3 linked regions of the Homo sapiens genome follow. The protein of the gene in region 2 interacts with the protein of the main gene of each other region in a biochemical or structural test. Each region holds a gene or a part of one and is shown on either strand. Other genes may lie near its edges. The genes, in order: HDAC5, ATF3 and HDAC4.

What was found.
Region 1: the proteins of ATF3 (region 2) and HDAC5 form a complex in vitro, tested with the Homo sapiens proteins (one study listed by BioGRID).
Region 3: the proteins of ATF3 (region 2) and HDAC4 form a complex in vitro, tested with the Homo sapiens proteins (one study listed by BioGRID).

What each region holds. Positions count from the first base shown.
Region 1 is NC_000017.11:44,078,533-44,082,180, forward strand, and holds part of HDAC5 (histone deacetylase 5), read right to left. Parts: intron 2,351-3,648; coding exon 2,231-2,350; intron 1,967-2,230; coding exon 1,869-1,966; intron 1,694-1,868; coding exon 1,575-1,693; intron 746-1,574; coding exon 612-745; intron 348-611; coding exon 263-347; intron 134-262; coding exon 1-133. UniProt on the Homo sapiens protein: Responsible for the deacetylation of lysine residues on the N-terminal part of the core histones (H2A, H2B, H3 and H4).
Region 2 is NC_000001.11:212,615,141-212,618,788, forward strand, and holds part of ATF3 (cyclic AMP-dependent transcription factor ATF-3), read left to right. Parts: coding exon 1-121; intron 122-2,986; coding exon 2,987-3,094; intron 3,095-3,648.
Region 3 is NC_000002.12:239,047,882-239,051,529, forward strand, and holds the end of HDAC4 (histone deacetylase 4), read right to left. Parts: 3' UTR 287-3,648; downstream 1-286. UniProt on the Homo sapiens protein: Responsible for the deacetylation of lysine residues on the N-terminal part of the core histones (H2A, H2B, H3 and H4).

The sequences.
Region 1 (3,648 bases), on a different chromosome or scaffold from region 2:
GCCTGCTCGGCCCCCACCGACAGCAAGGCCATGGCGCTCACAGTCTCGGCCTCCTCGGTCTCACCTGCTTGGGCCTCTCGCAGGGACCGGCCCAGACCAGCGGCGAACTTCTGCACACAGCTCCAGTGTTTGCCTGTGGACGAGAGACAGGCAAGGGGTCAGGGAGGGCAGAGGACACCCACATGAACAGTCCCAGTCCTGGTGCTCCCACAAGCTCCGTGCCCCCTTGGCAGCCTGAGCCCCTCTACGTGTCCTCACGCACTCTGGATCTCGATGACTTTCTCTAGCGTGGCCACTGCGTTGATGTTGGGCTTTTGCTGCAAGACTGCCTCATCCAAGGGCTGCAGCTGGCAGGGGAAAGAAGAGAAGGCTTAGGGTGGGGAGTAGGGTTGCCATGCATACCCCTCTAACTGCCCCACTCAGCCCCAGATATCCCTCACAACAGGGGCAAACATGGCCTTTTTGGACAAACGCATACTCAGAAAGCCTGGCCATTAGCTGTTCCTTAGGACCAAGGAAAAGCTTCCTAAGGGGCTCCCAGTGCTGGCTGACCCCTTGCTGGCCCCTCAGACCTCTGGCCTGCCACCTCCCAGCTCCTTCCCACCCCTTACCTCTACACTGAGCAGAGCCGAGACACAAGCCTCAGAGGCATCACAGATGGCGGTCAAGTCATGGCCTCCCTCCAGGGCCAGCACCACCCGGCCCCCTGCCAGGGTCATCAGCTGCCTGGTCAAGTGGCCAAAACCTTTGAGGATGGGTGAAGGGAGGAAGAAGAAATGGCGAAAGGTAATCAATCAATTCAAGAGCCAGTAAGAGGAGAGAAAAAAGGCCAGGCGCGGTGGCTCACGCCTGTAATCCCAGCACTTTGGGAGGCCAAGGCGGGCAGATCACAAGGTCAGGAGTTCGAGACCAGCCTGACCAACATGGTGAAACCCCGTCTCTACTAAAAATACAATAATTAGCCGGCCATGGTGGCACGCGCCTGTAATCCCAGCTACTTGGGAGGCTGAGGCAGGAGGATGGCATGAACCCAGGAGGCGGAGGTTGCAGTGAGCCGAGATCACGCCATTGCACTCCAGCCTGGGTGACAGAGTGAGACTCCACCTCAAAAAAAAAAAAAAAAAAAAAGAAAGAAAAGGAGAGAAAAAGAAACACAAGAGGTGGGACAAATAGCACAAAATGTGATGGGAGATATAAACCCAAATATATCCATAATAAAATACAGCATCAGTGAACTAAATGCCCTATCACAGTCAAAACATTAACAGACTGGCTGAAGACTCCAATCCAATGACAAGGAGCATCACTGAAACACCAGGGACCAACAAGCCCATCTCTACAGCTCCGGCAGGATACATCCTCTATCCTCTGCTACCCCACTGCCACCTCCTATCCCCTCAAGGCCGGGGTTGGCAGAGGACAAGTTGGGGGAGTTACCAAGATGATTCCAAGTCTAGGCCCTGCCCCCTGCTTTCCCCGTCTGCTGCAATATCAGTCTGTTCCCTGCCCCATGCCTCACTGGACTCGATATCCTCACTGTTTCACTTCCTCCCTCAATCCCCCAGCAGGCTTACATCTGGCGGTGACAGAGTAGCCACCCAGAGGAGACAGATGTCCTTCAACAGCATCAAACCCGGCGGAGACTAGGACCACATCAGGTGAGAACTCGTGGGCAATGGGCATCACCACTGTCCTGCAAAGGGATGGCTCAAGCTGAGCCCGGCAGATGACCAGGCCAGGCCTCGCCCCACTGTTATCCTCCCAGAGACAACCCCCTCTACCCACACTGAACTGAGTGCCTTCTGCCCCTCCCACTGCAGGGCCCAGAGGGGCTCCCACTGACTACCATGGCCCTTTTCAGTCCCTACCTGAAGGCTGTAAGGTACTCCACGTCTCCAATGGGGGGGTCCACACCTCCTGTCCATGCCACGTTCACATTGTACCCCACGCCTGGTCCTCCACCAACCTGGCACCAGAGTTGGGGAGAGGGCTATTCTCACCACCTGGGAGTCCCAAACATTGCCCCTGCCCTCACCCCTGCCTCCAGATCTCACTCCACTGACCTCTGCTCTGCCTGGAGGGGCAGTCAGATCAGTGTGGTCCTCCCACTAGGAGCCCAGACTCCCCAGGTACCAACACCACCATGGGCCTCCGTGGCTCCCCGCCAGGTCCCATTGTGCCACCTCCCAGAGGGGCCAGGAGGGTCTGCATTTACGCCCAGGAGCTGTACCTCTTCAGGAGCCCCAGAGCCTGGAAAGAAGTTCCCGTTGTCATAGCGATGCAGAGAGATGTAGAGCACAGAGGGGTCATTGTAGAACGCCTGCTGGGTGCCATTGCCATGGTGAATGTCCTATGAGGGGAGGTAGAAGCATCGGGAAAATGGCCCGCGCTCTGACCCAATGGTCAAATTCCACCTGTCAGCTGAGCACTGTAGCTCATGCCTGTAATCCTAGCATTTTGGGAGGCTGAGGGCTGGGAGGATCGCTTGAGCCCAGGACTCCACCCTTGGCCACAGGGCATCCATATTCTGTTCACAATGGTATTGCACACCCCACACTTCTCTAACTAGGTCTGAGCCTCTGTGGGGTGGCACTGTGTAGGTGATATTCAAAACCATGGGATAAATGTGGCATATCTCCCTACAGAACCCATTCCACCTCACAGTTTTGGGGAAAACATTAAGGCTAGTAGGGAATTTAAAACAGGCAGATGAGATTCTTTCTTTTTTTTTTTTGAGACCAAGTTTCACTCTTGTTGCCCAGGCTAGAGTGCAGTGGCACGATCTGGGCTCACTGCAACCTCCACCTCCCGGGTTCAAGCGATTCTCCTGCCTCAGCCTCCCGAGTAGCTGGGATTACAGGCGCCCACCACTATGCCCGGCCAATTTTTTTTGTATTTTTAGTAGAGATGGGGTTTCACCATGTTGGCCAGGCTGGTCTCAAACTCCTGACCTCAGGTGATCCACCCACCTCGGCCTCTCAAAGTGCTGGGATTACAGGCATGAGTCACTGTACCCGGCCTTTTTTGTTTTCCTTTTTCTTTTCTTTCTTTTTTTTTTTTTTTTGAGACAGAATCTCACTCTGTCATCGAGGCTGGAGTGCAGTGGCATGATCTTGACTCACTGCAACCTCCACTTCCCAGGTTCAAGGAATTCTCCTGCCTCAGCCTCCCCAATAGGTGGGATTACAGGCTCCCGCCACCACACCTAACTAATTTTTTTGAATTTTCAGTGGAGACAGGGTTTCACCATGTTGGCCATCCTGGTCTCGAACTCCTGACCCCAAGTGATTCACCCACCTTGGCCTCCCAAAATGCTGGGATTACAGGCTTTGAGCCATTGTGCCCAACCACAAGCACGTAAGATTCTGAAGGAGGATCCAACATTTACATGAATTTTTAAGCCAGAATTGGGCTTCCAAGAGATTTTGTCCTTCCTGAGGCTTGGTCCTGGCTACTTCCCCAGCTCACAGAGAGTGGTGTGTGCCTCTGCCTCCACCATTAGGAGCAGGGTTTGGGAAGCACCCATGGTAGCAAGAGCAGAGTGCTGGGGCCAAAAGCCTTGGTCTGAAACCCAGTGCCGACATCCCCAGCTGAGTGGCCTTGGGTAAGTCACGCAACAACACCTTTGTTCACAGAAATGGACATCCT
Region 2 (3,648 bases):
TGTCAAGGAAGAGCTGAGGTTTGCCATCCAGAACAAGCACCTCTGCCACCGGATGTCCTCTGCGCTGGAATCAGTCACTGTCAGCGACAGACCCCTCGGGGTGTCCATCACAAAAGCCGAGGTGGGTTCTATCACAGGTATTCATTCTTTCGGCACATGTTTCGCTCGCAGCCACTGTGTGTTGGGCATGTTCTAGGCAGGGGGCTGTTGTTGAGAGTGAAACAAACAAAACCACTGCCCTCAGGGAGCTTACCTTCTCCTGGGAGGAGACAGAAGTACATAACATACGTAAGTACACGTTAAGAGATGAGTGCAAAGGAGAAAAAAGCAGGGAGCGGGGCAGAGAGAACGGGTAGGGATGGGGTTGCTGGGTTTAAAAACTTTTCAGGCCAGGCATGGTGGCCCACGCTTATAATCCCAGCACTTTGAGAGGCCAAGATGGGATTATCGCTTGAGTCCAGGAGTTTGAGACCAGCCTGGGCAACACAATGAAACCCAATCTCTATGACAGTATTAGCTGGGCAAGGTGGTACATGGCCTATAGTCTCATCTACTTGCGAGGCTGAGGTGGGAGGACCGCTTGAGCCCAGGAGGTTGAGGCTGCAATGAGCCGTGATCACCTCACTGCACTCCAGCCTGGGTGATGGAGCAAGACTCATTTTGCTTTTAGAGACAGTGTTGCTCCATCACCCAGGCTGGGGTGCAGTGGGGTGATCACGGCTCATTGTAGCCTCAGTCTCCTGGGCTCAAGCGATCCTCCTGCTTCAGCCTCCCAAAACACTGGGATCACAGGGATGAGCCATTGCACCCAGCCGGGGTTGCTGTTTTAAATTAGGAAGTCAGGTAAGGATTCACTGATAGTGACTTTTGAGCAGAGGTCAAAAGGAAAGGAAGAAGGAAAGAGGAGAGGGAAGAAGCCACGTGGGTATCTGGTAAAAGAAATTAAGGGCACTGAGGTGGAAGTATTGGTGCCTGGTGGGCTGTGCAGTGGGGCAGAGTATAGGGGTGGGAGATAAATAGGGGCTGGTCATATTGGGTCTTACAGATTATTATTGTATAGATGCAGCCCTGGGCTCAAAGTGAGGTGGGAAACCACAGAAGGCTTTTGAGCAGAGAAGCAACAAGATTCAACACACACACACACACACAGATACACACACACACTTTTTTTTTTGAGACAGAGTCTTGTTCTGTCACCCAGACTGGAGTGCAGTGGCATGATCTTGGCTCACTGCAACCTCTGCCTCCCAGGTTCAAGGGATTCTCATGCCTCAGTCTTCCAAATAGCTGGGATTACAGGTGCCCGCCACACGTCTGGCTAATTTTTGAATTTTTTTAGTAGAGACGGGGTTTCTCCATGTTGGCCAGGCTGGTCTCGAACTCCTGACCTCAGGTAATCCGCCCGCCTCGGCCTCCCAAAGTGCTGGGATTACAGGTGTGAGCCACCACGCCCAGCCTTGATTTATATTTTTAAATGATCACCCTGGCTGTCATGTTGAGAATGGGCAGTAGGGGTAAGACAGAAGCTGAGTGCACAGAAAGGAGGCCGTGGCAGGAATCCACGTGAGTCAGGGGGCCTGCAGCAGGAGGGAGCAGTGCAGGTGCTGAGAAGTGGTTGGCTTTGGATCTGACTTGAAGGTAAAGCTGATTTGCTGATAGATTGGATGTGGGGTGTAAGAGAAAGGGAAGACTCAAGGGTGACTGAGTTTTCTGGCCAGCATAGCTGTAAGAATGGAGCGTCCATTTGCTGCTGAGATTTGGGATTATAGGGGTTAGGGTGGTGGCAAGAGCAGGAGGTCTGTCCTATTCTGCAGACCCCTGTGGAGATGTCAAGCAGGCAGTTGGATATGTGAGTCTGGAGTTCAGAGGACAGTCTGGGCTAGAGATAATAGAGTTGGAAATTATCGGCATATAGATGGCACTTAAAGCCATGAGTCAGGATGAGGCCACCTTCTGTGTCCAGTTGTTCTGAAGAAGCTTGGAGCGTGGTGGTCCCTGTTTTTATCACTACTAGGACCCAAGCACCCAGACAGTAGAGCAAGGACCAGGCAGCCTGCCCCACCCTTCCCTGTAGCAATGTTCACAGCCTTGGGACCAGGTGTTGCTCCAGGTTCACTTCTGTCTGACACACTTGCACTGTTCCACGCTTGGCAACCTTGGGTAAGACTCCTGGAATAATAAACATGGTGAGAAGTCTGGGAGGTGGCTTCTGGCGATGCCATAGTGGCTTAAGGATGTCAGAGCTGAGGTTCCACCATTTTATTGGCCTTTTCCTCATGGTGGCAAGTGGAAGTGTTTCAGGCTTACTCAACTGGCATGATTGCAGCCTTTGGGCAAGGAGTAGTGGGACTGACCTAAAAGACTGTCCTAGTTCACCACTTGCAGGTGGCACCCCAGCATGGGCCGATTAATGCCGCTTTGGTTGGGAATGGGCTTAGGTGCCTTTTCTACAGGAGCATCATGGGCTTCTCCCAAATTTGGGAAGCTGGTGCTCTGATGCTCCAGGTGAAGTCAGAGGTGAATGGGGTTGCCCTTGGGTCTTGAATTGAAGAAGAGGCCGGGAGTGGGTGGCTAGGTAATGATCCTGAGATCATTCCTGGTTCTCAAAGAAAGGAGATGTTTACCAGACAGAATCTGTTTCGGCTTTAAATGATTATAGTTAATACCAATAGTTATCAATTTGCATATTATCCTCATCTCAAAATCCAAATGCATTTTTAAAATTGGCTAACTTTTAATTTACTAATATATTGCCGGTATAATTTTAACTTTGATTTTTGTTGTTCACTCACGTGTGTGTGTGTGCGTGTGTGTGTGTGTGTGTGTAGGGGTTTTCACACAAAAGTCTAGAGCTTTAGTATTTCGGGGTCTTTTAGCGCTAGCATTGCCCTTGTCTGCCAGCTTTTGCTGGCAGTAAAAGGCAGTGTATTTGAGGTAGGTGGCATTTCTTACTGCCCTTTAAATGTGTTTCTTTTGGATTTTACAGGTAGCCCCTGAAGAAGATGAAAGGAAAAAGAGGCGACGAGAAAGAAATAAGATTGCAGCTGCAAAGTGCCGAAACAAGAAGAAGGAGAAGACGGAGTGCCTGCAGAAAGTGAGTGCCTTCTAGCCTTACCCTTCCTCTCGCTCACGCCTGTCTTCACCAGCTTCATGTGGCTATCAGAAGAAGAGTTAGAAAACCCCCTACTTGGTTATAGTTTCCCAAGAAGGGCCTTGTAGCTGGTAGCAGAAATGCCAGTTGCAGAATGAGGAGGTGGCAAAGCAGTTAACACAATGGATGTGACGGTGGATGTATAAAAACAGGTGTGTGAATTCGTCTGATGCCTGACTCCCAGCAGCCTCGGCCGGTTCATACATGTCCATCAGCTTCCAGGCTGCAGGACATGCCAGCCCAGTTAAAGAGGCTTCACTTGACTGTTTTCCTGAGAAAAGGAAGCTGCCAGCTCTCATTTGGCTCACTATGAAAAGCCTTTAATTAATCTCTTCAAACAAGTTATTTCCTTAATCCACAAGCAGTGGTTACACTTGCTTTGCATTCTTGTCTGGTTCCTAACTCTAGAGCCCTTCTCCCTGGCTTAGCCAGTAAGCTGAGCCCCTGGCTGCGTTCAGCCGGCCCGCCTGAGAGACACTAGGGGAAATAGCTTTTGT
Region 3 (3,648 bases), on a different chromosome or scaffold from region 2:
AGATTATTTCCAGCTCTCTATGGCTTGGTAAGTGTTTTGGGGGAGAAGATAATGTAAAGATTTAAATTACTGGACATTTAAAATGAAGACACTCCTATGGGACCTGATTATGCAGGCAGAGGGGGACGGGCCTGCCGCTGGTCTGGGTCTAGGGGCCGTCCCCATGGGGTCCAGTGATTCCCATGCAGCCATCCGGATGGGACCCAGGGCACTGGCCATTCGGCCCACAGGGTCCCAGACATGCGAGAGCCAATGAGGAAGAGAGCGCACGGGCAGAAACCAGAGCTGGGAGGGCAAGTAACGCAGTCTTTATTTACACCACAAGATAACACGTTGCGTGATGTGGTACAGAATACTGGACTCCAGTGAAGTGGAAAGAAGGTGACCGTCAGAAGAGGATATCATTGGTCGGTGAAAATCCACCCACACAAAACAAGACAAGAATGAGAAAACCAAACACAAAACCTCCAACTCCACTGAGCAAAAGAAAGAACCATCGGGCACGTCCAGACAATCCAAGAGAAACGGATTAAATTACAGAGGTGAATGGTGGCCACGGCCAGTGCGCAGCTCACGGCGGGCGCGAACAGGCATCAGGTAGGTTACAGTGTCGTTACAACTTGGTTTTCTACCACATTCCGTAAGAAGCTCTTGGGTGAGTAAGGTTCAAGCCCCCTGTATAGATAGATAGATAGATAGATAGATAGATAGATTATATATGTTTGTCATTCTCATCAATTGGAAAATAGCGCCTCCACTATGGAGCACACACGGCAAAAAAAACAAACAAAAACTGTTCGCTTTCTTTTTCTTTCAATAGCAGACTTTTAATCAATGCCAGAGACAAAGTGAGGCCGAGCTAAGAACACGCTCAGCTTCGTTACAATGAAGAAATGGTTTCCTTTCGATGCAAAGTATAATTGTAAACCACAGTGCTCGCACAGTTCACGACTGCTTAAAGTGAAATCTTAGCCATACATCACCTAAAAGTAATTAAAAAGTCAACACAGCTGTGCGGAAAAGGGGACTCTTTCGAGTCCGCCCAGTTCTCAATCAGAATAAACCGTCACAAGGCCAGTGAGGGCGGGCGGCGCTCGCCTGGCCCGTGGAAGGAGATAAAAGGAAACAAACAAAACAAAACAAAACAAAATTCCTCCAAATCAACTCGAGAGAGACAGGCAGTTCACTGTGAATTCTGAGTAGTTTCCCTAAAACACTGTTTCCACATAAATACAATAAACTCTATTATTGGTATGTCACAAGTGCTAGATAAACTTTTTTTCTTAATATGACAAATGTTTAAGTAGTCCTTTTTATTTTTCTTACAATAAAAAGTACAATTTCTTAAGAATAAGTTCAATAAGACGCAAACTTCCCCGCCCTCCTCTCCTTCAAGGTTTTGTTTTACAGAAAAATTTCCATCTTTTGTATCTGCAAATGTCATGAGAGGGGAACAGAAAGGCATTTTTCTTCTTCCCCAAAGCTGCCGAGTTTGGCGTGCAAAATCTGTATACAATATAAAGTCATGCCGGTCGTACAGTCCATGCAACCTCCAGGTGTAGGAAACTTAAAAAAATATATTCATATATATTTATATCTATATATTTATATATGTATCAATGCCCATAAAACACGTGGGCCCAAAGTCTACAAAAAGAAGAATGGAATGAGCACGTGGCTGTGACCAGTAAAGAAGGAATGTTCTGATCAAAAAGAAAAACAACAAAGTCCATTGCTAGTGCTGCAAAAATCAAACTTGCTTTTGTGTCAGACCATTACGAAATGGTCCTTCCCCTTGCAAACAGATTTTCAAAAGAAGTAAAGAAAAACTGAAACACCTTGACAAAGTGGCCCTCCAGAACCAGAGCCCTGGGACGCTGGGGAGGGGCGGCCAGTCCCAGCGGGCCACGGCCTCCGGGACAGCCGCCTGCTGGTGGGGCGTGGGCACGTGGGCACGCTGCGGCACGGCGGGAAGCCGCGAGGGCAGGGCAGACGCCAAGAGGCCCAGTGGCGTCATCAGGGTTTCCCTCAAAGGGATATAAAGTGCTCGCTTGCTGACTCCCAGCCAGTGCCCCCAAGGCCTTTGCAAAGGAAGAAAAAGGCTAAAGGTCCAAGGACCCACAGGGAGAACACATGAAGGAACCCTCCCTGACGTGGTCCCGCCTGCAGACGCCGAGGCAGATCCTCTGCCATCTGCCCTGGACGCTTGCTGTGGAGAAGAGCCGAGTGTGTCTTCAAAGAAAAGGCTACACAGTAATGCTCTCAGCACATTTGTGAAGCTGGAGTGAGCTGACAGATGAAACGTGCCTCCCCCTGCCAGGCCTTTGCAGAGGGCGTCTCCATTTGAATGAGATTAGAATTAAGTCCCCCCACTGATAACCTGGCCACTGAGCAGTCCATGTTATCCCATCATCTGCTTAAAAAAAAAAAGTGAGATGATGCATTCCTCCCCATAAGCCACGGCGGGGTAAGAGGGCAGGTGGCAGGATCCCCAGAGGGCTATGCAGAGAATGAGGCCAAGGAGGCCAGAAGAGCCTGCTAGCTGGGCCCTGCCACTGCTCTGTGCCATGAATGGGGAATGGACCAGCTCCTCTTGCCAATCTGGGCTTCAGAGCAAAGAGTGGCCACCAGGGAGGGGAAAGTCAAACAAGTCCCAAGACCGTTCTGCCTGCTCTCAAACCACTGTCTCAGAGCTGACCATCAGCAGCCCAGTGACCAAGTGAATCCAAGAATCTGCACTCATTTGGTCAAAAGTTTGAGTTAATTTCAGAAGCTACCCTGTAAACTTTACCAAACTCCGAAACTCGGCTCTGGGTCCCTCCTGAGCACGGTGTGTCTGAACTTCTGCCCCCAAGTCTGAACCCAATATACACTTTGGAATGAAACTGGTGGCTTCATGTGCTGGAAAATAAGTTACCAGTAAAACGTGACTGTCAGTTACTGTTGAAGAGAAAAAGAGTAAAGACTGGCTGTCCTGGTCAGGCAATCATACCCTCCCTGCAGGTTCACCAGGCAACAAGGGTCCCTGGGTTCCTTGCAGCCACAGGCTCCAAAATCCAGGGCTGGCCACGTGGCTGCAGTGGAAAAACCCAAGTGGGTAAAGAGCCCCACGTGTGCCCCATGCATTGCTGACATGCTCAAAAGGTCTTTGGAAAACTCAAGTTAGAATTCTATCCTGACGATGTGGTCAGAGAAGTTTAAACATGAGTTTCATTAATGCTGACTGCCCCCGGCATCTGGCAAGCCTCCCAGGGTGGCCGGGCATCCTAAGCAACCCTCCCTGCCCTTGCCACGGAGGGGAAAAACACACCACCCCTCGTAATACTACTAGTGTTGAAAGTTAAAAAGAGCCCCTGGGCTTCTTTATACAGCTCCTAGGACAGACCAGGAAAGACACAATCGTTGGTGTCACTCCGAAAAGACCTACGGTCCCTCCTCTCACTTTCTGAAAATAGAATCTGACAGCAACAATTCTGTACGCTGCAGAAAACTCATCGTACAAAAATAAAAACAAAAATAATTAAAAACCTTTGAAAGGTAAAAAAAAATGTACAAGCAAGAATTCAGAAAGGAAAAAGATTTAGACATTATTACCATTCAGAAAATTGCTAAATGGTGAGGAAAAATGTAAAATTCATAAAACAATGC